7 linked regions of the Homo sapiens genome follow. The protein of the gene in region 2 purifies or fractionates together with the protein of the main gene of each other region. This does not show direct contact. Each region holds a gene or a part of one and is shown on either strand. Other genes may lie near its edges.

Region 1 (3,691 bases), on a different chromosome or scaffold from region 2:
ATCCAAGATATTTAAAGAAGAAAGAAAAATACATGCCTACATGTACATATAGACAGAGAATGTCTCAGGTCACCGAAGAAACTTACTAGATGTTGCTTCTGGGTAGATGCACTAAGGATTGGGGAGTAAGAGAAAGATTTATTTGTGGTTCCTTTCATTTGTCCTACAATCTCAGCTGCTATCTAATTGTGGAGGCAGGAGAGTTTCTTTTCATATCCCAATTTTGCCTTATGAGGCGTTTCTGTCCATCAGAGATGACTGGTTTGGGTTTATCTCAGTTTCCTCTCCAGCTGAGTGTCCCCATGAAGTCACCTTCTGAGTTGTCTGGTTGGCCACAGTTGAAATAAAAGGTTCAGTTGAGTATCACACACATGCTTTCTTTGAAATAAAGTTTCAGGGTATAGTAGGAAGGCACAATGAAACTGAAGTAGAGGTGGAATCATGTTGTAAGTGAAGGGAAATGGCCTTGTTACATTGGAGTATGATAAACAATGCTAACTTCTTAAGTAGCTGTACCTATTTCATGTAATTTTGATTATGATTATAACCTGCAACAATTTTAATTATGATTTTAACCTTGCCAGAATTCACCTGACAAGAGTTTTGTCAGGAATTAATTGAATTGTCTTTGTAATGGGGCAGGAAAATGTATCTGGATTTTTTTTTTACATATGTATGTATTACTTTTTCAAAAAAAGCAAGAAGCAAGAGGGAAAAAAAATCCAGCGGAGGCTTCCAAACAGTTAAACAGACTGCAGATTAAATGAGAGGCAATTGTGAATTAAAGGCAACTGTGATTCAACTGCCCCAAAGCGGCTGATACTCAGGGCAGAGCTCAGGGCGAATCCAAGAGCTGGGAAAAGGAAATGATGTGAGACTTTGTGTGAGACAGTGCGGACAACTCATACCAGCTGAGCATAGCACAGACTAGAAAACCTATTACACTGAAATGCTATTGAACTGATCTTCAGAAGCCACGCAGATATGCTTCTGAATACACCAAAAATCAACACCAGAAATGCAAAATGAAACAAGTTTATTTTCTCCAATAACTTCTGTAAATTACAAAGACAAAATACTAAAAACTACAGCATATAACTTTTCAATATTTAACCAGAGTACTCGTAATAAATATGCATCCGGAAACAAGATAAAAGGCTACACCTCGTCAGGCATCCTACAAAAATGTCTCAAGTTTTATATACTCTGCAGCATTTCTGTGCGGGGGCAGAAGGGGCTGTTGTGTATTTTCTGAAGTGCTGTGACAAAAGGTCCTTTCACATTTCTTTGGAGCATTTTTGAAATTGCTTAACTATAATTAAACAACTTAAGAAAAGTAACACCAAGCTTTAAAGCCATTTTTGCTTTGCTGTCATTGGTCCTTATCCAATACAGATCAACATATCATCCAGCACAGCCAAGCACCCACTGAGGCCAAGCAGCCTTGTGGGACATGGGCCCTGTCAGAGCAGGCCCTACTTTCAGTTAAATACTTTGGAGAGTCCAGGATTCTGTCTCTCTCCCTCAACAAGATTAATGCCATAAGGGAAGTTGCAAGCGTGTTAGAAACATTTTTAACCTGAAAGTAAAGTGAACAGAAATATTTTTTTTCCGAGACCTCTGCTATGCACCATAATATTACCATATCAGGGTTTTTAGCTTCAAAGTTGAAAAACAGATTGGTACTAACAGTCCTTCTAGAGATCATTTATGGGCGCTGGTAGAGTCAGGGCATTCAAAACATTCAACGGGTAAAAGGAGGATTTGCTAGATTCAGAAATGCGCTACAATTCTGAAGACACCATGGCTGAAAGTTCTAGGGGTGTTGGTGGCAGCTCATATTAGGTCTGGCATACATAACTACCTTTTGCTATAGCTGAAAACTTTAAGGAAAAAGTTATATTTTTAAAAAGTCTCAAGCATGGCTACCTAAAAAGTATTTTGTTAATATAATCTACTGTAATTTCACTTATTTAGGAGTTCAGATATGAAAACATCTTTATGAGCCAATAAAAATATTACAGAGAAAAAAATACTTCTACAAAAGTTGAGGTTAAGAACTATGAGGCATTTCTTTTGGCTGTAAACACACAGTTTACTGTCCCTTGTTGAAACACAAATGTTTGGATTTCCTGAGCTTCACAGATAACAGCAGGAGGCAAGTTTGCATAGAAAATTTGCAGTATGTCAACAATTTACTTAAAAAAAGAACTTTTAAGGACAACTTGCTTTTGTTTTTAAGTTTCATATTTTAGTTAATAGTGCTCATCAAACTGAATATTGATAAGCAGGGTGATGAGATATATAAGGCAGATGGGAAGAAAACATGGAATTAGAGTTTTTAAATCCACAGGATATCATGATGAAGGGTTTTAAGCAGATACTTCATAACTAGTGCCATACTAATTTAGTTAGAAATTAAATCATGTTTTGGAATTGAAAGCCAAAGGCAAAAAGAGCTCTCCTGTGCTGAATGGCACTGCCCGAGTACAGGAATGGAAGGAGCATTCACTGCAGGAGGCCTCAGCACATCACTCGGTGGTGATAAAGCCACTCAGCCAGTCAGGGATGGAGGAGGGGGCCCCCCTGCCAGCATCAGGACCAGACCTCTGGGCATGGCTGATCCCAGCTCTGGAATCTGAAGGGATGACAGGGACTTTCACCTCTGCTGGTTTGAAGTCTCTAAGCAGTTCTGAGGCGGGCAGTCTTCTCCTGGGAGAAGTCCTCAGAAACCTTTGGAAAGGGAAGAAGCTACGCTAGGCCACAGTGCATACCACGAATGAGAACAATGGCAGCGGCTGCCGACAACTCTGGATCTAACACAAAGACAGATGACAAGGGGCAGTGTCCTGCCAAGGAATCCACTTTACTTCTTTTGAGACTGGTTTTTACACATGGTAAGGATTTGCTTCAGTACTTTCTGGACATCTTCATCCATCTGGCCCTAGGATATTCAAACACAAGATACTCATTAGAACCTAAATTAAGCCATGGCACTTTCTTCTCTGGGGAATGAGATGGCTGACTGCAATGAAGACCTGGGCTAATTCCCACATCTTTCACAGGAATGTCAGCCCTATCATTTCCCAAATTTCTATGAGGAACTGAGTCAAAGAAAGGGCCCTGCCTTTATCCAGCTGGAAGATGAGGTGGCAGTGTCTACCAAAACCCTCAGCAAAAGCTATCTGGGGTCTCAGTTGCAAATGTGAGTCCAGCAGCCAGAACACCAAGCATCATAGAGCCAAGGCAGCACTGGTAACTAAGAAGATCAGCATTGCTGGAAAATAAAGCCCCCGTCTTCCCAGTGGAGGACCACATCATCCCTCATTCCTCAATAAATGATGGGAGGGTGGGGCATGGTGGCTCATGCGTGTAATCTCAGCACTTTGGGAGGCCGAAGCGGGTGGATTGCTTGAGCTCAGGAGTTTGAGACCAGCCTGGGCAACATGGCAAAGCCCCATCTCTACAAAAATACAAAAATTTGCCAGGTACGGTGGTGGGTACCTGTAATCCCACCTACTTGGGAGGCTAAGGTGGGAGGATCACTTGAGCCCGTGGGTCGAGGCTGCAGTGAGGCGAGATTATGCCATTACACTCCAGCCTGCATGACAGAGTGAGGCCCTGCTTTAAAAGATGGGGCTGTTCCTGGTAAACAGGGCACAAGGCTCCTGACACAGAATCCAAAGCAATG
Region 2 (4,298 bases):
GCTTTTCCAGAACCAGGAAGCAGCTGTGCCAGGCCTCACCCTGGGGGGCCAGAAAGCTCCCTACTCCTGCAGAACCCGGCTGGAGAGAGGGTGCGTAGTGTTCATGAGTGCAGAACCGCAAGGGCTCCTGGGGTCTGCGGGCTAGCTGGGGGCCTGTCTCAAGGGCTTCCCCCTCTTCCACGCAGTATCCTGTGTGAACCTGAGGCAGCCAGGCCACACGGGAGGGCCTGAGAGCGCCTGGAGAACAAGCTCCCACCTGGCATCACCTCGGCCATGGCTTTGGCCTGTACGGGGGTCCCCAGCCAGGGGCCTGAGGATGTGGGGCGCTGCGGCCCATTGTTCACGCAAACCCACTGTTGGGCTCAGGCTGCTCCCTCTCGCAGCCGCGCCAGCACCTGCTGACCCCGCTTGGCTGAAGCTCGGCCCCAGCCCAGCCTGGGGGGATCCTGGGGCCTGTAAGCAGGCAAGAGGGCAGCTCATCTGGTGGGCCCCCACTTTGTCCCCCTTCCAGATATGGGCGCTGGGGCCCACAGCCCACACTGGCCCCTCTGCCTGTCCCCAGAGTGGGACGCTCAGGCATGAGGACAGACTGATCTGCATGGGCTAGAGGAAGACCCCGAGGGTCAAAGCAGCCCGAGTGACCACAGAGTGAGGAGGAGACAAGCTCGGAGGGAGCGGCTGCCCACATCCCTGTGTGGCTCAGCTGCCCACACCCATGCATGGCCCACCCCTGCGTGGCTCAGCTGCCCACACCCCTGCGTGGCTCAGCTGCCCACACCCCTGCATGGCTCAGCTGCCCACACCCCTGCGTGGCTCAGCTGCCCACACCCCTGAGTGGCCCAGCTCAGGTTCTGCAGTTGTCTGTCATCAGGGGAAGCATGCATCATGACGCAGGACCAGGGGCAGGTGGCCAGAGGGAGATGGGCTAGGCAGCCACCGGCAGCCAAAGAGAAAGGGGGTGCAGCTCAGGCTGGTTCCCCCACAGCAAGGAGGGACTGCCATGCCTGGGCCACCCAAGGCAGCACAGCTGCTGCTGAGGAACGCTGTGGTCGCTGGGCTGAGGCAGTGCCTCCTCAGCTGAACCCCTCCTTGATGGTCCCTCCCCACCACCCCTCCCCACGTCGGAGCCTCAGCCTCTTTCCAAGTGGTCCAAATCCCTTTTTCCTCACCCGAGTGTGGGTGAAAAGCTGCCCCCATGGGCTGCAAGGGCAACCGGGACAAGCCCTTCTGTCCCCAGGTAGACCCCCTCTCCCCTGCCCCGCTGGAACTGCCTGAGCTGCCCAGGCCTGAGTGGGGGTGGGAGTGTGGGGGGTCCCCAGCCCTGAGGTCTTCATGCTTCCGTCTTAGAACACTAAATATTCCCGAATCAGATCATGGCCATGTTGGGGGGAAGACTGATGGGTTTCTAAAGCAGGAAGCAGTGCACGAACACGCAGATGTGTGTGCACACAGACTCACAGATGCACACACACTGCACACAGTTGAGAGACTTAAGACACACACACACGCCCCACGCACACAGAGAAACACAGTGTATACAGACACATGCATGCACACACGTGTACATAGAGACAAAGACCTGCACACCACAATCTGTAGACATACAGGTACACATGTTGCATGCACACACACTGCATGCACAGAGAGACACATAGGCGTGCACACCTGCATTTGCACACAAAAACTTACACACATGCACACACACTATGTGCAGTCACAGATACAGGCACACACTGTGTGCAGACACCAGAACACATGCACACACACACGTACTGAGTGCACCAACGCACACACGTACTGTGTGCATACGCACTGCATGCACAGACACAGGCACACACACATGCACACATACACTGCAGGCACACAGACACAGGCGCACACACACTGCATACACAGAAACAGGCACACACACACTGCATACACAGACACAGGCACACACACACTGCATACACAGGCACACACACACATGCACACAAATACTGCATGCACACAGGCACACACACACATGCACACACACACACTGCATACACAGACACAGGCACATACACATGCACACACACTGCACACACACACATGCACACACACTGCATACACAGGCACACACACATGCACACACACTGCATACACAGACACAGGCACACACACACATGCACACACACGCTGCAGGCATACAGACACAGGCACACACACACTGCATACGCAGACAGGCACACACACACTGCATACACAGACACAGGCACACACACACATGCACACACACTGCATACACAGGCGCACACACACATGCACACACACGCTGCAGGCATACAGACACAGGCACACACACTGCGTACACAGACACAGGCACACACACACACATGCACACAAATACTGCATGCGCACAGACACAGGCACACACTGCATGCACACAGATACAGGCATACACGCACTGCATGTACATGTATACACACACAGAGAGACACACATGCACACCCGGGCCCTGTCTGGGCCAGCTGGTCAGATGTGACAGAGGGGGCTGTGAACCCTGTCACCAGGCACCAGAATCACCCAACTGGGACAGGACCCCCACCTCCAGCGCTGACAGAGGCTGGCTAGGCAGGCAGAGGACACGGAGACTAAAGCCTCAGATCGGACCTGGGAGTGCTCAGGCACAGGGGAACCGAGCCACAGACCTGCCCTGACTTCACCTCTGCCCCACTGACCTCCTACGCATGCCAGGAGCTGTGCTAGGAATGCACCCCCAGAGGACCAGTGCATGGCTGATGTGGAGGAGACAGCCCATGCGGCCCTCCTGAGGGGCTGAGACGCCGGCTGAGAAGCACCAGCCTGCCAGGAGGTCAGGCTCCCTCACAGAGTAGCACCTGGGCACCCCAGGGGAGGGGCAGGGGCAGGGCCACAGCACAGCCAACTCTCGCGGGGTGCAGTGGCCAGCCTAGCAGCTCAAAAGGCCAAGGAGAAACCACCGCAAATACCGCAAACAACAGGAGGCCCTGACGGGGCTGCCGAGAGTCAGCACTGCCCCACAGGCGGAAGCAGCTGGAGACAACGCAAGAGATCCCAAGAAGCAGTAGGACCAGCAGACACACCCAGCCCGGAGACTCGGTGGGGTGGAGTGAAGGTCGGAACCACCAAAGGGTGGACCCAGAAGCTAAGCCGCCAACCCCATCTCCACTGCCAGAGGGACACATGGACCAGCCACAGGCCCCCAAGACGCAGCAGGTGAGCCCAGCTGCCCATGGCCTCGTCAGGAGAGCCTGCAGCCGCCACCCAGCGGCAAGCTGTGCACAGAGGCCGACCCACTCCAAGGCGGCCCTGCATGGAGCTGCAGAGCCTCGTGACCCTGTGCGCTGAGGCCAGCACATCCCGCCTTTGACGTCCCTCAGCCACGTTCTCCACCCACATCCTCCTTCCTCAGCAGTGTGCTGCTCTCACCCATCACCTCAGCAGAGACGGCAATGCAGCCAGGGTGCGCAGAGCAGGCACAGGGCGGCAGGGCTGGGGACTCTTCTTCCCGAACCCAGGCTGGAGAAGGCACCGACCCCACGGATTGTCCCAGCCCCTCCTTGGGACAAAACAGAGCCTAGGCTGCAGGACCCCCCTGACAGCTGGACCCGCCCGTCCGCTCACAGCCTGCCAGGCCAAGGAGAGTTGAGACACTGTCAAGGTGCCGGAGAAGGCCCACCAGTCCCCAGCATGCAGGTGGCAAATGCCACTCCAGGCACTTCTGTGGCCCCGGCTGGCCCCCGGCAGCTCCAGGACCCGAAGCCATGGGCCTCTGCCCGCCCTGGGCTGCTGCCCTAACCCAGCCACTCAGGACAGGATGGTACCTTTTCCCCACACTGGTCACAGGGTCAGCCCCACTTCTGCTGGCCGGCGTCCTCCTTCGTGACAGCTTCCTGGCACTGGCGCTATGCTCGGGCTGTGCATCCTCCCTGTGCGGACTGCCCCCGCCGGCGCTGCTGAGGCCCCGGAGCACGCTATAATTGATCTTGCTGGAGATCTTCTTCTGCTCCAGCATCTTCTCGATGGCCTCCCTGGCGGTACTGGCCTGAATTGGCTCCCGTCGCTTGCAAGACTTCTTGGGCTTGAGGGAAACAAGCAAGAATGCCTCCCGTGAGTCACGCCCACTGCACTCCACCATCAGGGGCTCCACGTGAGGCCAGGAGTGCAGGCGGGTGAGGCCTGGCTCAGGCCCTCAGAAGGGCCGCTCCTGCCTCCTCCCCCCAGAATGTGGGCCAGCCTGGTGCTCTCTGGGCCTGCCCACGTCAAATCCTGCCCTCCCAGGTGAGTGGGGCACG
Region 3 (4,298 bases), on a different chromosome or scaffold from region 2:
AACCTAAACATATGCATCCTTCTAATTCAAAACTCTGTTTATCTAAAAATAGAATCACCTTGACCACTCATGCTGAAAATGCTTAGCATATTTGGGACCTACAAAGGTTAGCAGCTATTTTGTTCCATGCCTATTTTATTTGGCAACAAAATTTAAGTTAACATATTTAATTCAGCCACATGCTTCTTAGAGTTAAGTGACCACTTATCTATCTGGAGTGAAGACCCTTTTAATGACATACTTGTTTGTTACAACATTTGAAAAGCACATTTGTGTATTTTCAATATAGAGAAAATAGAGCAATGCTTAAATGCTAACTAAATACTAGTAAAAGAGATGAAAGTCAGTCACAGAATCAAATTAAATTTACACTTACTTTGACCTATTTTAATTACTGGTGAAGATTTTTGAATTAACACAAAAGAAAAAATGGGGAAGCCTGCGTTTTACATGGTGCATTCCTGTTAAGCAATGGGACTGTGCCTCAATGCCATTCTAGAAACAGGGCTCCCCTCCTCCAAGCCATTCTGCCCATTCCAGTCATTCATACAGAAGCCACTGAAAGTCCATGCCCCTAACCAGAATAGGTTCAGAGACACTCCTGGAGGCTCTTTACCCCTCCATTCCCAGAATTTATTCTAACAAACACTTCTGTGGATAGTTAAGAATTTCTGTCCTAACTCTCTTTTGGAATTTATTATTACAGAAATAAAGCTTGAACGCATGTTGTTAAATTAAAGATCTTGAAGAATCATGGAACTTTGGGAAAGAAAGGATAACTGTTCTCTAGTTCAGTTTTTCCCACTGCACTACTTAAAGTACCATTTTGTAAGTAATTTTTATTAGTATCTGACAGCAAACCTTTCTACAATATGAAAAAATTCCATGTGGCAGAATTCAAACAAGTATGTGTTAGGTCCTGTTTTTGGTAAAAGGTATATTGCTTTCTTTAGCCTAAAATAAAGAAACAGAACAACATCAATTTATATCTTAAGTTTATTCTTTTATCTTAGGGGGATTCCCATTGGGTTTAAAAGAAAACTATCAAATTTGATTTTTGTATCTACCATTAGCACATGCCTTGACTACTTTCCCATCAATTTTCATTCTACCTGACGAAGGAGAGGATCGCAGTACATCTGTTCAATAGTCTGAGTAGTACTTGCAATACAAGTCTTTAAATCTGTTTGGAAAAAGAAAAACAAAAGCTTCACTAAAATGATCTCATTCTATGTCACACAGGCTACTTTAACTAAGCAAAGAATATTGCTAGGGTCCTAATGATTTCAGCTTCCCTCTATGAACCACGAAGCAATATACAGTTTTAAAGCAGCTAGTACTTTAGGTTATGAAAGCTTTTAGTTCAATATAATTACATTAAGGTTTTAAAACATTATTTTTTATAATTGCCAAAATTTCTTAAAGAGTAAGCTGTTTAGGAAAAGATCTTAATGGGTCACTTGGCTGTAAAATGTATGCCTCAGACAGGATCTGAAATGAGAAAGCAGAACAAAGGGTAAGGCTAAATTTCTCTGAATAGGAATCTGGGAAGAATCTGTATTTTCCATCATCTTTTTGTTCCCTAGACAAAAGGAGACAGGAAGGGGGGTAAGGTTAGTCTGAGCAATATGGGCAATGAGGTCAAAGGGCTTTTTAAGAATACAATGCTGAATAATCCAATTTTACATTGTGCATACTGCTCAAATACCTCATTAACCTTCAGTAAAGCATGCTTCCTATAGAAAAGACTGAAGAGTAGAAGTCCAGAAAAGCTAAATGCTAAATCTGGGTCAACTTAAGCTGGAGTTCAGATAATCTACCACAGAAACAGAAATCAGTTGATGCAGAAAAATCTCAGCAAAGGTGATCATTTCCCAGAAATTTTGAGGGGGAGATCTTTCCATATCTGTATAATGGGGGTGTGTGAGCCAAGTTTACAGGGCACTAAAAGTGCAAAAGAAGTCACAATTACCATGTCAAAATTCAAAAGCATGGGCCAGACGTAGTGGCTCACACCTATAATCCCAGCACTTTGGGAGGCCAAGGCAGGCAGATCAGTTTTGGTCAGGAGTTTAAGACCAGCCTGACCAACATGGTGAAACCCCATCTCTACTAAAAAAAAAAAAAAAATCAGCCAGGTGTGGTGGTACATGCCTATAATCCCAGCTACTTGGGAGGCTGAGCCATGAAAATCGCCTGAACCCGGAAGGCGGAGGTTTCAGTGAGCTGAGATTGCACCACTGCACTCCAGCCTGGGTGATAGAGTGAGACTCCATCTCGGCGGGGGGGAAATTCTGTAGCATGTACAGTAATGTCAGGAAGTGTACCGAGGTGCTTAACCTCCAAATAGTCAAAAAACAGAAAAAGCAAAGAGTAACTGACAAATTTTAAAAGAGCCAACCTTGTATATCTTGTTCAATCTCACTCCTCCATCTCTGAAGACAGGTCTTAACAAAATTTATCTCCTCATCTGTGACTGTTCGTGGAGCTGGCTGTGAAGGCATTTCCATGGAAGACCGAGAAGATGTCAGTGGTTTAGACTTGGGTAAAGAATCTTCAGGAGAAGAAAAGGTACTTTCAACATCCTGAGAAGAGCTTTCTGTACTTGTACTGAGGAAGACAAAAATCATGCTCATATGATAATTTCCAAAAGATACCTTGGCCTAAATTATGTACTTTGGAAAGCAAGATGCTATATGAAAAAGTACAGGTATTCAGTGAGCATTAACTCTATAAAGGTACAGAGCCAACCTTTTTCTCTATCATCTCACGTACCACAACTGGCCTGTGAGGTAGATACTTTTCTATCCCTATTTTACCAACTGTGAGCCTAAGGTTTAAATAAATTAAGCAACATGCCCAAGTTCACCAAGCTGGAAGGTAATGAAAATGAATCCAAAGCCAGATCGGCCAGTCTTTAGCTCATGTTCTCTGATCACTGATTATTCCTTCCCATGAGGATGGGAAGAGAAGGAAAATGGAAAAGAGAAGACTAGGCCTGGAAGAATCAAGGAATCAACTACAGAGTTTACAAGATGAAGCCAACTAAAGTGACACTATCCTTCCTGGAACAAAATACACAGAAGGAAGAAAAAGGAAGCATCAGCTGAACATACAACTCACAGGAATACACACTAGGTGACACCTTGGAGAGTTCTGAGAGAAGGGCTTCAAGTCAAACAATCCTAGCTCTACTACTTTAGCTAAATACCCAAGGAAAAAAGTATTAATATCTCATCTACAAAATATAAATCTTAAGTTCTTTACGTCTTTTCTGTAAACTAACAGAGAATAAAGCATATCAAGTAAATGTTAATTTCTCTATTGTCAGAGTAAAACTGCAGGTCAACAAACCAGCAGGAATATAAAATAAGCTTCTAATTGTAGTTAGGTTTCTCTTTTACACCAAAGCTGAAGAATATAAACTTCCTTTACTTTGACTTAAAAAAAAACTCTCACTCCTGCCGGGTACGGTGGCTCACGCCTGTAATCCCAGCACTTTGGGAGGCTAAGGAGGGCAAATTACCAGGTCAAGAGATCGAGACCACCCTGGCCAACATGGTGAAACCCCATCTCTACTAAAAATACAAAACTCAGCTGGGCATGGTGGCACGCCTGTAGTCCCAGCTACTTGGGAGGCTGAGGCAGGAGAATCGCTTGAACCCAGAAGGCGGAGGTTGCAGTGAGCTGAGATCATGCCACTGTACTCCAGCCTGGCGACAGAGTGAGACTCCATCTCAAAAAAACAAACAAACAAACAAACAAAAAAACCTCACTCCCTCCTCCTCACTCTCTCACATGCACAAAATAATGGAGGAAATCTCTTTTCCCTAAGGTCCATACTTATGGAAAAATAAGCCCAACAAGGGAACAGATATCTCAATTTCAGAGGAGATTACACACATACACCTCCCTGTAATTTTTAAATCTAATACCAAGCACTATTATTTTATTTGATTAAATAGCCTGCCGAACCACTTTTTAAAAATTAAAACTTTACATTTCATAATATACATAAAAAGATTCTATTTTTACAAAAATTAAAAAATTTAAGTAGAATATAAAAAGTGAAAGAGCAGCCCCACTCCTATCCCCAGACTCATGTCACTCCTTAGAGATAATCATTCTTGACATTTGGTATGTTCTATCCAAATAAGCATTTCTATGCATACATGGATGAATAAATATTAATACGTGGGGCGGTGGCGGGGGATGTGTTGGGGAGAATAGTTAAGATTTTTTGACAAAAAAGTCTAACTTTTTATTGAGTATTAGTGTTTTTATTAGCCAGGTAACAC
Region 4 (4,298 bases), on a different chromosome or scaffold from region 2:
GTGATGCAGAGAAGGAAAGTAGGGAGCTGGCCTGAACTGGGCCCATGCACACCAAGTCCCGTCCTTCAATGCAGGAGCCAGCTGACAGCATCTGCAATTGATAAACTAATGTGTAATACATATGTATGTTATTTATAAACAAGGAGATCATTACCAGATCATTGAGGGTCTTGTAGCTTGTTTAAGGACTTGGGTTTTACGGAGTGATACAAGACACCCTTGGAAAGTTTTTATCAGAGAAGTGGCATGATCTGACATATTTTAAAAGGACTGCCCAGCCTACTGTGTGGGGAACGGCCTGAGAATATGGGTAAAAACATATATTACTCTGATGAAATAAAAATCAATTTTTTAAAGATGAAAGGATGGAAAAAGAAGATGAGAGATACAGTAAGGCAGAGACAGATATGGGACTCTCTCTCCTGAAATGTCACCCCTGGTGGTTCACAGGTCAGTGGGGGACGACATGTGCCAGGGATAGGAAGAAGGTGGCTTGCCTGCAGGACATAGCCTGAATGGGGTCTTGGAGGGAGCTGAGGGGCTGATCCAGGAAGCAGCCTGGGCCATGAACTGGCAGCCCCTAATTAATAGGTGGCCTCAGCCATGTCCCATGGTGTCTCTGAGTCTGTTTTCTCTCTGTCAAACAGAGAGACTCGGAACTCTTTTCACAGGATTTAAACAAACTATGGGAGTAAAGCTTCCAGAGTACCTGGCACACCTTGGGTCTTAGAAGCAACCTCCATTCGCCCCTCTCTCCTTTCCCGTCTCACACTCACTGGGGACGGGCAGGGCTCACGGGGGACAGGCAGGGCTAGAAGCCAGGTCATGTTCTCCACACACACATCCCAACCCTGAGTACCAGGCCAACGAGTGGCTCAAGAGTCACCCAGAAAAGGAAGAAGGGAGACAGCTGGCCCTCTGACAGAAATAGCTGTGGGGTGGGGCCCAGGGCCGTTGGGGACCAGCAGGCCTGTCCACAGCTGAGTTTTCTGTGGACTCAGAAACCCAGAAGCATCTTTTGGGAATCGCACAAACAGCCCAAGGTCACAGGCACATTGTTCACGCCCTCCAACAGCTCAGACTGTTGGTAAAAATCCGTCTGGAACACCAGTCTTGTCACATTCCTAAAACCTTGTAGACGATCTGCCAAGATGGGTGTTTGGCTTAGGAGAATCAGCTGCAGAACAGCCCTCAGTGACTCCACTGCGGCTGGGTTCCAACTGGAGGCAGGATGTTGTTCAGGCTGGACAGTCCTGTGTCCTGCCGGGCACTGAACGCCCCTCACCTCTCCCAACTCCTGTGGAACAAAGGGGCAGGGCCCAGCCCCAATGGCAAACCAGTGTCCAGCAGCACTCAGTTGGTGTGCAATCTGCTGGCCAGCCTCAGAAAAGCAAATTCATAGAGAAAAAAGTCATGAAATTCACTTTCAAATCAAGTGAAATAGGCCTAGGGACAAGTCTGACATCTTGGTTGCGTGCAGGTGAATTCTGGCCCCAGGGTCACCTCACCAGAGGGCAAGGGACTGCATTGGGGACCCAGATTTGCATCTTTGCAGCTGGGCTCAGTCCTGGACTCTCCACCCCAGAGGAGCCAGGTCAGGTTAGTGCTGGAGAGAGGTAGAGCGAAGTTTCCACACTGAACCCCACTTCTGGGCTGTTCTGGAAAAGAACACGTGCACCCCATCCCCAGCTTGGTTCTCCAACAGCCTTGAGGAGAAGAGAGACAGGCTCCCTCCGCACAGGTTGATATAGGAGGGCTATTTGGGAAGGACAGGGAGAAAAGATGAATGAAAGGGGGACTTAGGATGAAAAGACCCGATATTTACGAACTACCTGAAACAAGGGGCATGGCTTTATGTTGGGTTCCAGAAGCAGAGCCCATGGCAGGACTGGATGTGAGCCCTGTCCCAGCAGGGGCATGAGGGGGGCAGGCCAGTCAGGGAAGGGCTGGGGAGGGAGGTGGTCTCGGCAGGAGTTGGCCTCAGCCTGGCCCGCAGAGAGCTCCGGAGCAGGAAACGTACCACAGAATTGGTTGCATCTTGAAACAAGCCTGGGGGACATTTTGTGACCTCACAAAATGGTTACTTGATGGCTGCAGGCTGCCTTGGGGGCAATGCAACCCCTTCTCCACAACTGGAGTCCTTGGGGGCTGTGTGACCCCTTCTCCACAACTGGACTCCTTGGGGGCAGTGTGACCCCTTCTCCACAACTGGACTCCTTGGGGGCAGTGCGACCCCTTCTCCGCAACTGGACTCCTGTGTGGCCGTGGCTCAAGTGAAAGGCGGTGGCTGTGAGGCCTGAACCAACAGCACCCGCAGGCCCACGAGTCAACTTGGGGCCGGTGAAGCAGCCGGGTGGGGCAGCAGTGCCCCTGCCATGGATCAGGGCCCGAGGCCGCAGGCCACAGAGGGGCCAGCTTGGAGAGGAGGCTGCAGAAACAGTTATGGGGGGAGGGCCTCCGTCCTGCTGGGTGAGGAAGGGGTACCTATGGCACCACCAGGGGATAATAAGCTCACCGCACTGTCTCAAGGCCCCACGGTGAGTTCCTAATGCAGCCTGCGCAAATGACTGTTCCTGTTGGGAAAAACATTCTTCATTTGAGAGCAATACTTTGAATTGCATGGTGAGACCAGTATCGCTTTACTCAGCTGCAGAGTGCTGAATGAGAAGTTTGGGATGCTACCAAAATGCACCAGTAGAATGTGAAATGCGGTAGGAGAGGAAAATCTATCTGCGTTGGAAACACCCCTCCCCAGAAGTGGGAGGCGCAGCTCATGCCTTTGGTGCTAATGAGCTTCTGCAAGTGCGTACTAAACCTTTCTCCTGATAACATCCCGCCTGAATTCCACTGCAACAAGAGAGTGAGAAATAATTGACTTGCGATAATACAGCATTTGCAAATAACTCCCTTTACTATACACGCTTGCCTAGAGTTTAAACCATCACATGGAAGCAGGACACCGGCTGCAGAAGCAGAAATGCACCCTCCAAAGGCTGCCCCCACCACGAGTCCTGCTTCTACCCAGAAGAGTGCAAAGCCCTGCCTGCACAGGGCAGCCTAGCTCTTCCCCTCGCTCCAGCGAACTGGAACCCACGTCCCTGCCAGGTGACTCAGGCTTCCCAATGACCTCAGCCCAGAATTTTCCACTTACTCTCCAGAAGGCATGTTCTTGGGTGCCAGGCCCAAGTGGCAGCCCACTCCCTCCCACTTCCTTGAAGCCTCCCCAGTTTCCATTCAGGCCCCCACCTTCCCAAGTGTTTCAGGGAGGCCGGCTCTCCCCAGTCCCAGGATGAGTCTGACAGGTCACAGGGTAGACCCACCCCCCTTTGCCACAGGCACTGAGCCCCTAAGTCCATGGTCCTTGTCAAAGAGCTTGGTGCAGGAGTGGCCAGACAGACTCATGAAAGTTTACCAGGGAGATACTGCTAGCTCTCTGGAGAGAGCCACCAGAAGAGACGGTGTGTGGGCTCCACAGTGGCAGCCCGGGAAAGCCAAGGCCAGCTGGCCTCCATGAAGCAAGTCAGCCTGAGGATGAGGCCACCCACAGAGGATGGCCCAGCCCAACCAGCTGCGCAGGTGCTGTGGGAAAAAGAGGCCGGAGCCACTGGTGAGGCTGGCGGGGAATCCTGCCCTGCCTCCGGGCTTGCTGTGCTCCAGCCAATATACTTCCCCTTGTCAATGTCAGTCCAGTCAGGGTTTCTGTCCCAGCAGCCAAAGCATCTTGACTGGTACATACAGCCTTCAAGAACTCAAAATGCCACTTCCTCCAGGAAGCCACTTCTGAGACCACTGGCCGGCTGTGATTCTCTCTCATGTCCAAACCTTCAGAACACTGTCTACGCCCTTTTTATATCAGATCCCTTCCTGTCTTCGGTTAGCATTATTGATCTACAGGTGTCAACCCCTTTCTGACCCAACTCCTGGAGGGCAGGCAGGTCCTCGCCGGGTTCCTCCCTGACTCTCCAGTCTCCCCAGGACAGGAATTTGGATACCATGGCTTGTATCTGTTGAGTCAATGAGTGAATAAGAAAGTACTGAACCCAAGACGATTTTGTTGATTTCTATAAGAACCCTGATGAATTCAAGGAGTAGATATTTGCCATTTGAATAGTGATTTTCATTTTCACAGTTGAGAAATAGAAGTTAATTTGTACTAAAACATAAGATGTCACACCTGCTCCCTCCAACCCTATCAATCTGTGCTACTCAGCACTAGTAACAGCTGCACCTACGGCTGGGTTTTACCGGGAGGGGCGTGTAAGAAGCTCTCATATTTACCCACCGCCTAGTTACATACT
Region 5 (4,298 bases), on a different chromosome or scaffold from region 2:
TGGCCATTTCTACCAGAATAGGATACTAAGTCAGTTAATTACTTGATATTCCCTCTGCTCAAGGGTTTCCCCTTACATTACCACCTATTCACTGCCAATCTGGTTCCTCAGAGGCCTCCTAAAATTGATCTCTATTCAGTTTACAACCCACTAACTCCCTCTCCCAAACTGAAAACTGTCATTCTCTAAAATTGAAGAGAACCTTGTCTCAACATACAAAGGGAACAAATCAATCAACAACGACAACACACACACACACACAACCTCTTCATGGTCTTTTCCCTCTATTACCTAATTTCCAAATTGGCCTTGATATTTCTGATTGCTCTCTTTTCCGCTTTCCACTTCTGCCTCATGAGCAATCAGAAATATCTTAAGCCTTGCCACTGACAGGCGCATCACCTTCGTATCTATTACTGTTTCTTAGGAACTTGCCAAAGGGGCAGGATCTCTATTCATTGAAACATATTTAAGTTTTCTTGGAGTTTTCATGTAAAACCTATTTCAGGGCAAATTTTGCCATTTTACATTCATTAGGGGAAAAAAATCCTAGGAGGGAAAAATTGAAAAATAGTAAGTATTACCTTCTACAAATTCAGTGCTTTCAAAAAAATTATTTACCACAAGCGCATTAAAAAAAAAACTGTACCCTCTAATGCTTCTTTGAAAGTAACAATATTTAAAATGAAGTCTTAGATAATTAGGTCATTTCAAAATATTTTCATTCAGGTTATGCTTGAGCTTCCAAATATGGAAGACTGGCCCTTACACAGGTCAATGTTAAAATGAATGCATTTCAGTATTTGAAGATAAAATTGGTAGATCTATACCTTGTTTTTTGATTCGATATCAGCACCGTATAAGAGCAGTGCTTTGGCCATTAATTTATCTTCATTGTAGATAGCGTAGTGTAGAGTGGTATTTCCATACTCATCTGGAATGTTTGGATCAGTGCCATGTTCCAGCAACATTAACGCACATTCATCTTCCTGGCATTGTACGGCCTGTCAGTATTAGACCAAAAACAAATTACAAATCCTAGGAATTCAAAATAACATTCCACAGCTTTCACCACCTAAGTTATATTTAAAGGAGAAAACTCATTTTTATGCTATGTATTGAAATCAAACCCACCTCATGCTGATATAGTTGGCTACTGCATACCTTTGTCAGAGCTGTCCTCTTTTTGTTGTCAAGGACATTAAGTTGACATCGTCTGTCCAGCAGGAGTTTTACTACTCCTGAATTCCCATTGGCAGAGGCCAGATGTAGAGCAGTCCTATGAGAGTGACAAGACTTTTTAGGAAATTGTAGTGCACTAGCTACAGCCATAGCAATGATTCATGTAATTGCAAACACTGAATAGCCTGCTATTACTCTGCCTTCAAAACAAACATTTAACTTTCCCATGAAAAAAGCACACTATTTATTATCTCTCTTTACTCGCTGTATTAATGAAAGAGCATCCTATATGAATACAAAGAGCATAGCCCTTGGATGACATTCAACTTGAGCTGGAATCCTACTTGAAGCTCTGTCACTTCCTGGCTGTTGCTTAGCCTTTTGGGGTCTCAGTTTCCTCATCAATAAAATAGGAATGAAAATAGTAGCTTTCTTACGGGAAACCACTGTAATGCTTAAATGAGACTCTGCACAAAAGATATAGAATAGTTCCTAACACAAATAACAGCTCAATAATTGTTAGATATTTTAATTTTTACTAATACCACTAAAGACAACATTTGAATTGAGATGATACAATTATACCTGCACTTTCAGGTGTGTTTTAAATATTACAGCTAACATTGTATTTTAGTGATTCTGAGATGATCATTGTCTCCATGTTGTCTCCACTGAAATACCACTTACAATTCATGATTTACTATAATTTGCGGCATTTAAATAATTCTCTTATTGAGGCATAAAATAATGGGGCATCATACAATCCCTGGTGTCTTACATTAAGTAGAATATGTTACAACAGGTCTGGGGCGGTTCCAGTCAGATGACCAGCATTTAGATAAATTTTAGTTCCTAAAAGAACTATGGAATAAGAGAGCAGAGGTGAAAACAAAAACAAATTTCTAAAATAAACCAATTCTTACTTTGGTTTTCAATAAACTTTAAGTCAAAGAAAACTTGGAATTCAAATGAATAGCATGGGCTCATTTTTGTCAACACTTAGATTTATACAATGTATGTACATCAGATATTTCCAATCATTCATATTAGGATTTAAGACTGTTATAAATTTTCTTGTTTTAAAATGGATTTATGAAACTATTTGTGGAGCTTTTTTCAACTTTTACATTCAGGGATACATGTGCTGGATGTGCAGGTTTGTTACATAGGTAAATGTGCACCAAGGGTGTTGGTTGTACAGATTATTTCATTACCCAGGTGTTAAGCCCAGTACCTGTTCATTCTATTTCCTGCTTCTTTCCCTCTTCCCACCCTCCACCCTCTGATAGGCCCCAGTGTGTGTTCCTTCCCTCTAGGTATCTGTGTGTTCTCATCATTTAGCTCCCACCTGTAATTGAGAACGTGCTGTATTTGGTTTTCTCTTCCTATGTTAGTTTGCTAAGGATAATGGCTTTCAACACCATCCATGTCCCTGCAAAGGACATGCTCTCGTTCCTTCTTTTATGGCTGCATATTATTCCATGCTGTTTATGTACCACATTTTAGTTCTTAAAACAACTAAAACAGTCTTTTCCCCAAGACATAAATTTTCAAAAGGGCAGTTAAAGGTTATCTATTACTATTTTCTACCTCCAGAAATGCTTTTGTTTGAAAGGAGGGAGGAAAAGCTTCAATTGAGATTAAGTCCTAATGCCCCAATTTTAAATCTCTCAGCTTGCTCAAGCCCAGCAGGAAAACATGTAGTTTTCAAAGACGGAAGGATCCTGAGAGATAGTAGAATATGCCTGCCACATAATAGGTGTCTGGCTTATGTCTGATGACTAAATGGATAGGAAAAATGGATGAACACAGCTTGGGAGTTCAATATTTTTAAAGAAAACTCCTATAGAGTAGCGCAATACATTTGCAATAGCAATAATCATTTATATTTGCTATTTTAATTTTCATAAATATATAACTCAACTAAAATGATTAATTCATACTTTTTACATGTTAATCTATATATAATGAAAAGATAATTATGGAATAAAATGTATATATAATAAAATCTACAGGAACAGGTAAACACGACCCCTCTTCTTCTGAAGAGGGTAAAAGTTCACAGAAAATAGCCAACCACAGAAATAAAAATAAATAATAGAATGTGAGGAATTATTTGCATCTATGCAAGAAGCATATTCCTTCTCTTCCCAAGGATTATTGCATTAGTAATGAACCTTAACTACAACTTCAGATGTTCATTGCAGAAATCACAGATAAGAGAAAGGGAAAAACTTCACTTACAAATCCCCAGAAACAAGTTTGATTATATTTTCTACAGATTTGCAGCTAACACGAGCAGATTCTGTTCGTGTATATGTGTAACAAACTGATTTTTTTCTCACTTGATATAGCAAAGTACATCTTTGCACGTCGACATATCTCTGTATCTACTGACACCCTCAATAGTTACATATTATTCCATCCTATGGATGCACTGAAATTTGTTCATAAAATCTTTATATGGGTTCTTCTAAATACACTGCTATTTTAAGCAATACTAAGAAAAACACATCTATTTCGTAAAGATATTTCAGTATAATGGAATTGATAAGTAAAAAGCATACACATTTTTAAAATGTAGTTCTTACCACTAAAGTGTCTGTTTGAAAAGCTGCAGCAACTTAAACTTTAAACAACTACATAAGTACCACTGTTCTTCATCCTCACAAACTTTGTGGATGGAAAACAGTATTTCATTCCTTTTTTTTTTTTTTTCTTTTTTTTTTGAGATGGAGTCTCACTCTATCACCCAGGCTGGAATGTAGTGGCGCGATCTCGGCTCACTGCAACCTCCACCTCCCTGGTTCAAGCAATTCTCTTGCTTCAGCCTCCTGAGTAGCTGGGATTACAGGTGCGTGCCACCATGCCCAGCTAATTTTTTGTATTTTTAGTAGAGATGGGATTTCACCACACTGGCCAGGCTGGTCTCAAACTCCTGACTTCATGATCCACCGCCTCAGCCTCCTAAAGTGCTGGGATAACAGGCGTAAGCCACTGCACCCGGCCTTTCATTCCTCTTCTAACTTAAATAGAAAGCAGTATTTCATTCCTCTTCTAACTTAAATTCCTTCTTCTACCAGGAACACTGTATTTTCCTATGTGCATAGGTCACT
Region 6 (4,298 bases), on a different chromosome or scaffold from region 2:
TATCTTAAGAGGAAAACATGATTTAACATTAAGTGTGGCAATAGTATATGTCAGTTTCTAATGTGAATTTTTTTTAAGGTTATAACTGATTTTTCACACATATAACATGAAAATTTCTACTTATTTCAATATAAACTTTCTTTTAAAAATTGCCTTTCAACTTTATGATAGAACTTTAGCTTAAAGTTCTAAACAGGTAAGTGTTAATGTTTAAAGTTAAATTTATAGACAAATACAAAGAATAAAATTAATTATAAACACATCTATTTCAGCACACATGAATTGCTTTTCATTTCTGATCTACAAAGTTATGACAATTTTGTGTTTCTTTGTACATCCACCAGAAAGGTGCCTAACTCACAGCACTCAGTAATTATTTACTTAATGAATGGAAATAGCCTTGAAATAATTTTCAGTAAAACAACATAATAGATTTACTCTTTCATGAGACTCCTTTTTAGGTTCTGGTTTCCAATAAAATCATTCAATATTATCAAACTACCAAGGCAAATATCAAAAGTGCAAAGTGCATTTTAATAACGGATTGACAACATGTTCAATTGTACTGAGTGGGAATCAGTAAGTTTAAGCTCTTTATAGAGCTTGAAAATATATGAACAGAAATAATAAGAACTAATATATTTGCATATTCCAGAGTTTTAAATGTTAGAAGGTTCTAAATAAGTAATTTACTTTACAGATGCATTTGAAACAGGAAAAAATCAAGAATATTAAATTCAATGTATAAATTCACTATTCACCAACTTGTAAGCTTTAAAGACTTTTTAAAAATCCTTGTTTTTTTTAAAAAAGTACACATTAATAACTGAGCTATACAGCTATGAATAATCTATGCAATTTGATCAATGAGCTATAAAATAGCTTTTAAAACACCAGTAAAATAATTAAAAATTCTTATTTTTTGTACAAGAAAGCTTTATTATAAATCTACTGGAAAACATTACATAACTTGTAAAAACTTTTAAATAGCACAACACACTTTTTAAAATCTAATGCTTTCTGGAATAAACACCAGCATGATTTCTAATAAAATTCTATTAGCTCTGCTATTTTGTCTTTCCCCTTTAATTTTCTAAAAATCAGGAAAATGGGGAAAAGACAGGAGACACTTAAATGCAAAGAGAAAGACAAGCTGCAGCTGTAAGTATGACATAAGTCTATTTTGCGCTAAAAATAAGCTTCAATTTTGTTTTCCCATGTATAAATATTTAAGTGTCCTTCCTTTTTCAGGACAATTCTTCCCTCAGTTATATTACCACGGTTTGTTACAAACTGTTCCTTTAAGCATTTAGTCCAAGAAAGACAGATGGACACTTCACATAGTTTTTCAGAGTCATCCCTACATGTATCCTACAGACTATGACTAGATTATTAACAAAGAAAGGTAATGTAAAATATGCCTGAGCCATTTTCAAGACCTTTAAATTTAGCTTGAGGATCATAAACCTGAAACCATTCAGCTTTCTCATTTTTTTTAAATTTGAAAACTACACAAAAATACAGTTCTTCCAAACAAACATACCTTCAGCTCCCAATGACAAATCATCTTCAAAACTTCCTCCATTTCTCACAAGCACACCTGAAAGACACATTTGAAAACTCATCCTGGTGTTCTGTTCCTCTCCACCCTCATATAAAATCACTGTTTTAGTTAAATTCACCCAGCAAAATATCTTATACAGTAAAATCTTTCAGACTTGAATGTACTCAGACATTATTCTGATTATATAACTTCAAGAAGCAGGTATAAGCTTTTACTTTAACGTAAAGAAACCACTTTTCCAGCAACATAAAGTTCTCAGAAGCCAACCTATAGGCTGTTTTAAACTTATATTTTTGAAGATGTTCAATCAGACTACATACCAAGAGTTTCATGGAAAACCAGATCCTGGAGCAAATATTCTTCTTATCCATCTCATATTAAGTCAGGAGCTGGATTTTCCTGACACTGTAAATGTTTTTTTATATGCCTTGCCACTGCCTGCACATGCTTGTTGTACTTTGAACTTTAGAATTCTGTCTTGAACAGGTGGTAAAATTTTAGGTGTGGCAATTTCAGTAAATGTAAGCAAAGAAATGCTGCACGAAAGTTGACTAAACTTTTGTTCACTCAATAAGTATTTTCCTTATATTTGCATATTATATATTCATATTTAATTAGTCTTTATAATACCTAACTGGACAATAAAGATATAAGTTTCACGTTGTGAAAAGGCTAGGCAATTTGCTTAAACTCCCTACTGTTTTACGGTTTATAACAAAGTTTCTCCATTTTGCTTCTAGCTCAGAATAGCATATACTATAAACATGAATATCACTTTTATAAGTCATATATACACTTTTACCCAGAGGACAAAGAAGTAGAACTGTCATAAAGAACAGATTTAGAAAGGCAACCTTCTCTTACCCTTGAGTGTACTACTGCTTTGTTCATCCAGTGAGGCTCCCAAAGGTGTACTGAAACCATATAAACGTATAAGCCTTAGTCTTGTGAAAGGCTATTTGGAAAGTTGTCATTACACAGCCTTACTTAAAGAGTTACAGCTCAATAAGCTTCTAATCACAGTTAAACTCTCCTCCAAAAACACACAAGGAATGCAAGTAGATTACATAAGTAATATTCACTAACTAAGCAAATACCTGCCATCAGGTCAGTTCAGCAGGAATGATTTAATCATGTCTGATGTGCTAACAATTAGGGGCAAAAATGGCAATGACAAATGATTTGAATTGGCATTTTTCTTTGCAAAAAAGAGAGAATGACTGACAATAAGCATTAAGAAAATGTCTGTTCTTCTCAACCCCTTCCATCAAAAAAGAAAACAGAATTAGAAGAAAACAAATCTTCAGTCATAGGTAACTTAACCTTAATAAAATTAAAAAGTGAAGAGTAGTTGGAAATGAGGCCCAATAGTTTCCTTAAACCTCATCTGTTAATCTATCACTAGCATTTCAGAGCATCACCTAATGCCTCCCCCTTGCCCCAACAACTATCTTTTTATGTAAATGTAGAAGCTTGAGATTCGCTTTGTTTTTAAGCTAAAAAATATATATATTCTTCATTTAACTTTGAAAATTACTAAAAAGTTGACTTGAGAATCAACATTAAGATTAGCCATTGCTAAAATTTTTTCATTCTTGTAGTTCAAATACAGATGAGAGAAATATCTTTTTTTCAAATACAAAAATAAACACTTTTAATTCTCTGAAACCAAGTTATAGTAAGAAACACATTGTTTTATATTGGAGGGTCTGTTTTGTGATGCACACCTTTCTTCAGTAACAATTTATAGCTGTTAAAAATTCACGAGACATGGGATCAATCATGAAAATATCAGTTTCAAGGAAATGTTACTGAAATGCCAATTAAAGGTTAAAACTTTCTACAAGTATACTAACAATGGCAGCTCTTTAAAACTTAGTGCTTTTGAAACGTAAAAGAATCACAAGCAATTACCATAAATATATTAATAAAAGCTTTAATCTATTTTTTGCATATATTTTAATAAAATTCTAATGTATGTCTTTAAAAAGTCATCCTTCCCTGATGGCTACTTTCTTGGATGTAAACATTGTATTACTCTGTCCACAGATGTCTCTACTGGTCTATGCACTAACAGAAAATGGTAGATAAGCAGAGTAACAGGAATCCTCCTTCGAAAACAAATATCTTACTTTTATAGTTGCTCCCTTCCAAATTCTATCAAAATCTCTACCATTTCTTAAATGTTAATTCAAGCAGTTTTTACTTAGTCCCCCCACAAATGGTTATCAAAATAAAGACTCCCTTTAAGGAAAGAAAACACGGTATCTTTATTCAGGATATGGACGGCACTAAGAAACAAAGACTATTTGAGAACTTATCAAGTGGGTAAAATGCTGTCTTCAGGTCATTTGTACATAATAAACAAAATACATAGATGCCCAACTCTGAGAAGGAACTTGAGTTGTTATTTAAAACAAAAATACAGATGCAACATATCCTAAGTCGAATCTGTGATAATATAGCCAAGATTAAAAGACTACTTGTTCTAGCTTTCCTGGATACAAATGAATGCCACTCTTGTGTAGAATAGGTGCAACTGTAGGAACAAGAAGGTAATCCATGAGAGAAGGAGCAGCAGACTACAGAATCTGCCCACATAAATCAGTATTGGCAACAAAACTTCTGAAATTGTCAGGGATTGACTGTGCCCTGGTGAATGTCAACATTTGCCTACTGCATTTGTCTCAAAAAAGATGCACTTATTTACTGTCTAATTGATAGGATCTCTTAT
Region 7 (4,298 bases), on a different chromosome or scaffold from region 2:
ATCTTGCGAGCCATAGGGTCCTTGGGCCCACTCCCTGCTTAGGGGAGGGGCAAACAGCTGAGCCCTCACTGGGCCTGCTGCCCCCTTGGGCATGCGACCAACCAGGGGCCAACTCCACCCACCAGGGTCCAGAAAGCTGTATGCCACCCAATTTACAGATGTGTCATTTGAGGCCTGGAGAGGAGCCCCCGTTCCCAGGCCAGACCTTTCCCCACTCACCAGCTGCAGCTGCAGCCACGGTAGCAGGAGAGGCACCCGCTAGCCGCAGCTGGTTCTGCAGCGAGAAGTCGATGTTGTACCACTCAGCGGCACGGTCTGCGGGCTTGGGCGGCATGACCAGGTTGGGGTTCTCCCGCACATCCAGGACCTGCCCCATAGGGTGAGCAGAGCCGGCACTGAGCCTGGGTCCTACCTCCCAGACACACCAATCCAGTTTCTTGCTCTTGTCTGCAGCCGCCAGGGCTGAGAGGTCAGGGAACTGGGTTCTCCTCCCACCCACCTCTGGGGCTGGCTGGGGGCTTAAATGAGACTGTGGAATGTACTCTGGATGCAGGGAGGTGGGGCCCACCTTCTCCCCACGGGCACCCTGGCACTGGCCACCTCCCTCAGGAGGCCTCTGCTGGGTCCCCCTTGCTCCAGGGCACACCCCTTGCTTGTCTCTCTTGAGCCCTCTCAAACCCAGCATGCCTGACCTCGATCTCCGTCAGGAAATGGATGGCTTCTGGGAGGGTCACCAGGTGGTTCTTGTTCAGGACAAGTTTCCTCAGCTTTGGGCACCTGTGAAGACAGGGCCAGCCAGGGCCTCAGGCAGGTGACAGACAAGGGGAAGTGGGCAAGAAAACCCCTAGTCCTGGGGAGGGGAGGCAGGTAGGGTCAGAGGAACTGGCGGGGGTCTCCATTCTCTGCCTGAAGGACTTCTCAGAGCCAAGAGACCATGTTACGGGCACTGTGATCTCCAGAAGGGGAGAGAAGCAACACTGCGTTCCCACGTCATGTGGCCTTGTCCCTAACAGTGCCCCCCGAAGGGTGCTCTCAGGGGCTCAAGTTGGGAATGGCTGGCATGGGACTGTGGTCTTCATCCACAAAGGTGAGTTAACTGGGCCGGGCGTGGTGGCTCACACCTGTAATCCCAGCACTTTGGGAGGCTGATCATTTGAGGACAGGCATTCAAGACCAGCCTGGCCAACATGGTGAGACCCCATCTCTACTAAAAATACAAAAAGAGCCGGGCGTGGTAGCGCACGCCTATAATCCCAGCTACTCAGGAGGCTGAGGCAGGAGATTCGCTTGAACCTGGGAGACAGAGGCTGCAGTCAGCCGAGATTGCACCACTACATTCCAGCCCAGGCGACAGAGCGAGACTCTGTCTCAAAAACAAAAAAGAAAAGAAAAGAAAAGAAAAGGTGAATTAACCCATCTTCATTTTGTCTGACTTGCACAGACCACAAGGTGGGCTCTGACTACGATCCCGGGGTTCTCTGTGCTGCAAGTGCCTCTGCTAGCCCCAGCCCTGCCCAGCACCTGCAGAGACTTTCAGGGACCAGCTCCAGGTTGTTGTTGGCAGCCATGAACTCTTCCAGGTTGGTGAGCTTGCCAATGCCTGAGGGCAGCCCGTCAAAGTCCAGCTTGTTGGAATTCAGGTACAGCTTCTTCAGCTTGCTCAGCTTGCAAATGGCTGACTGGAGGGGGAACGGGCAGGGGTGGGAGGTCAGGGCCAGGCTCACGGCCTTCCTCCCATCCCCCTACTGAGGGCCTCAGACGCACGGGCAGTGAGGTGAGCTGATTTCGGGACAGGTTCAGAGTTTCCACGTGCACCCACTGGTCTATGCACAGGGACAGCTCCGTGATCTGGTTGCTGCTGAGGTTGAGGCGGCGCAGGCTGGGGAGGGTGTACAGACACTCGGGCACCCGTGTCAGGTCATTGCAGGACAGATCCACGTCTGGGGTGCAGGGTGGGGTGCATCAGCTGGGGCCCATACACCAGGTGCCAGGGCAGCCAGCCCTAGTGTGAACCCCAGCTCTGCCACCTCTGAGCTGTGTGGCTTAGGCAAGTGACAACTGCTGTGCGCCCAAGTTTCTCCATTTGGACAAACTCCCTCACATGGGGGTTGCGGGGGAGTTTTCTAGGCATAAAGTCAGTGTTAAGGCATCATCATAATCGCAAAAGTCACTGTAACATAACTCCAGCCTTTTCCCTCTGGGTATTGGTCCGAAGAGCAGGGTTCAACCCCTTCCACCCAAGGAAGCAAGAGGGCCCAGAGGGGGCCCGAGCTCAGAGGGGCTCCTGGGGCTGCCTGACCTGCGAGGTTGCTCAGACCCTCCAGGCTGGTGGGCAGGTTGCTCTGGGTGCGCTGGGTGCTCCGCAGGTGCAGGGTCTGCAGGGCCGTCATCGCTGGGAGCTGCCTGCCAGGGTGACGTGAGTGGTCAGGGCCAGGGCCCACCTAGGGAGTGTTAAGGGTGGGGCTTGGCAGGGCAGGACCAAAAGCACAGGGCCCAGAGGGTAGGTGTGAGGTCACATCTGGTTGAAGGGACAAGCCCAAGGGTGGTTGCGGGGTGTGTAAGCGGGAAGACAGGACTGAGAGGTGGACATGATACTTAGGAGGTTGTACACTGAGGGGTGCTGCCTGCACGGAGGGATGGCTGGGCCTAAGGGAGAAGGGTTAGGGCCCTGGGAAGTGAAGGGGCCCGGCCAGACTCCTCAGGGTGGCTTCTGCAGGAGTGCGGTCCGAGGGGGCGCCCACCGGAGCTGTGCATGCAGCAGGGGGTTTCCATTGAGCACGAGCGTCTGCAGGTGCACCAGGCGGCGCATCTGCGGGGGCAGGCTCTCCAGGCGGTTCTCGCTGAGGTCCAGGTATAGTAGGTCAGTGAGGTTGATGAAGAGCTGGTTGGGGATGGTGTCGATGCTACGGGTGGGGAGCAGGAGCCACCTGAGTCAGCACCAGCCACCCCACAGGGCCCACCTGCCCCCTGCCCCCCACTGGCCTGGCACCTGTTGTGGCTGAGGTTCAGCACCAGCATGTTCTTGGCGTTCTCCAGCTCCCGCGGGCACTCTGTCAGCTGGTTGTGGCTCAAGTCCTGGGTAGAAGGGGCAAGACCCAGGTCAGGGGAGTCTCCTCCCCACCAGGCGTCTGCCAAGCTTGGGGATCAGGCAGGGCACTGAGTTGGGTGTGGGGGTAGATGAGGGGGCTTCAGGGCCAAAGGGAGACAGCCAGGGACTTGGGAGGAAGAGTGCCTGTGTTAGGGATCTGACTCCAAAAGTGACCTCAGGCAAGGTATTATCCACTCCAAGACTCAGTTTTCCCATCTGCAAAATGGGATAACAATGGCCCCAGGGACTTTTATAGTGAGTGGGGATTGAATGGTCCGGCTAGCACAGGGGCCAGGTGAGTGGGTAGCCACTGACCAGGACTGAGAGATCATCTAGCTTGAAGATGTCATCGGGGACTCCGGAATTCTTCAGACTGTTGGCTCGGGCCACGATGGCCTGGGAATAAACCATAAGAGTCTATAATTCCTGGCTTCCACTCTCAGGAAGGAACAGAGTCTAGAGAGGGACACCTCCTCAGGCAGCTCACCAGAGGCCAGGCCTGAGGACTCTCTCACCTCTGGCCTTTGATCAAATAGCTCCCTCTCCTGGAGCGCTCTTCCTAGCCTCCCAGTGAGCTCCTATTCATGCCTCAAAGCCCAGCTCAAATGTGCCCCGGAGCCCCAGCACAGGGCCCTCAGGGAACCTTTTCTGTTCAAACCATTTCTCTTCTTCTTAATTCCAGAAGGTGAGATAGGGGTAAGGTCTGAGTCAGGGTTTTCAGAACAGAGGGAGAGAAGTGGACCACAGAGAAATCAGAATCTGGATGGAGAGGAAGTCTGCTTTCTCTCCCTAACTTAAGACTGACACCTCCTCATACCTTACAGACATGCAGAAAGCTTGAGCATGAGGGAACAGGGCCAGAGAATGGTGTCGTGACTCCAAGTGACAACGGGAGTCACCGGAGCTGCCCCGCCACTTCTCCAGTCTGAATGCCTGTGCGGCACCCTGCTGCTGCTTCACGGGGTCACTGCTGCCCCTCCCAACCACTGCACTTGCAGAGGAGGCCCAGAAGGTAGAAGCGATTTGTACAAAGTCACATCACCAGGAAGTGGCAAAGCCCAGCTTTGAACTCAGAGAGTCCAAGTCAGAAGCTGTGCCCTAAACATCTCCAGGGCTCTGACTTCAGATGGGATGGCCCTCGTTGAGGCCTACAGGGTCTGGCCAAGGGCCTGATGTTCTGGGACGTTCAAGTCTTGGGTAGAAGGTACAC

Evidence for each region.
Region 1: the proteins of BRF1 (region 2) and RAI14 purify together in Homo sapiens (affinity purification with mass spectrometry, with the first as the bait; one large-scale study listed by BioGRID). This does not show direct contact.
Region 3: the proteins of BRF1 (region 2) and USP28 purify together in Homo sapiens (affinity purification with mass spectrometry, with the first as the bait; one large-scale study listed by BioGRID). This does not show direct contact.
Region 4: the proteins of BRF1 (region 2) and LRRFIP1 purify together in Homo sapiens (affinity purification with mass spectrometry, with the first as the bait; one large-scale study listed by BioGRID). This does not show direct contact.
Region 5: the proteins of BRF1 (region 2) and POTEI purify together in Homo sapiens (affinity purification with mass spectrometry, with the first as the bait; one large-scale study listed by BioGRID). This does not show direct contact.
Region 6: the proteins of BRF1 (region 2) and ITPRID2 purify together in Homo sapiens (affinity purification with mass spectrometry, with the first as the bait; one large-scale study listed by BioGRID). This does not show direct contact.
Region 7: the proteins of BRF1 (region 2) and FLII purify together in Homo sapiens (affinity purification with mass spectrometry, with the first as the bait; one large-scale study listed by BioGRID). This does not show direct contact.

What each region holds. Positions count from the first base shown.
Region 1 is NC_000005.10:34,829,941-34,833,631, reverse strand, and holds the end of RAI14 (ankycorbin), read right to left. Parts: intron 2,945-3,691; coding exon 2,867-2,944; 3' UTR 1,020-2,866; downstream 1-1,019. UniProt on the Homo sapiens protein: Plays a role in actin regulation at the ectoplasmic specialization, a type of cell junction specific to testis. Important for establishment of sperm polarity and normal spermatid adhesion.
Region 2 is NC_000014.9:105,213,717-105,218,014, forward strand, and holds part of BRF1 (transcription factor IIIB 90 kDa subunit), read right to left. Parts: intron 4,085-4,298; coding exon 3,828-4,084; intron 3,563-3,827; coding exon of another isoform or gene 3,436-3,562; exon of another isoform or gene 1-3,435.
Region 3 is NC_000011.10:113,812,773-113,817,070, forward strand, and holds part of USP28 (ubiquitin carboxyl-terminal hydrolase 28), read right to left. Parts: intron 2,611-4,298; coding exon 2,402-2,610; intron 1,184-2,401; coding exon 1,113-1,183; coding exon of another isoform or gene 1,104-1,112; exon of another isoform or gene 983-1,103; intron 1-982. UniProt on the Homo sapiens protein: Deubiquitinase involved in DNA damage response checkpoint and MYC proto-oncogene stability. Involved in DNA damage induced apoptosis by specifically deubiquitinating proteins of the DNA damage pathway such as CLSPN.
Region 4 is NC_000002.12:237,630,059-237,634,356, reverse strand, and holds part of LRRFIP1 (leucine-rich repeat flightless-interacting protein 1), read right to left. Parts: intron 1-4,298.
Region 5 is NC_000002.12:130,502,616-130,506,913, forward strand, and holds part of POTEI (POTE ankyrin domain family member I), read right to left. Parts: intron 1,280-4,298; coding exon 1,165-1,279; coding exon of another isoform or gene 1,135-1,164; intron 1,005-1,134; coding exon 831-1,004; intron 1-830.
Region 6 is NC_000002.12:181,894,210-181,898,507, reverse strand, and holds part of ITPRID2 (protein ITPRID2), read right to left. Parts: exon of another isoform or gene 3,810-4,298; intron 2,479-3,809; coding exon 2,429-2,478; intron 1,957-2,428; exon of another isoform or gene 1,885-1,956; intron 1,601-1,884; coding exon 1,544-1,600; intron 1-1,543.
Region 7 is NC_000017.11:18,251,780-18,256,077, forward strand, and holds part of FLII (protein flightless-1 homolog), read right to left. Parts: intron 3,485-4,298; coding exon 3,404-3,484; intron 3,076-3,403; coding exon 2,990-3,075; intron 2,904-2,989; coding exon 2,742-2,903; intron 2,404-2,741; coding exon 2,300-2,403; intron 1,941-2,299; coding exon 1,765-1,940; intron 1,680-1,764; coding exon 1,522-1,679; intron 778-1,521; coding exon 693-777; intron 368-692; coding exon 220-367; intron 38-219; coding exon 1-37. UniProt on the Homo sapiens protein: Is a regulator of actin polymerization, required for proper myofibril organization and regulation of the length of sarcomeric thin filaments. It also plays a role in the assembly of cardiomyocyte cell adhesion complexes.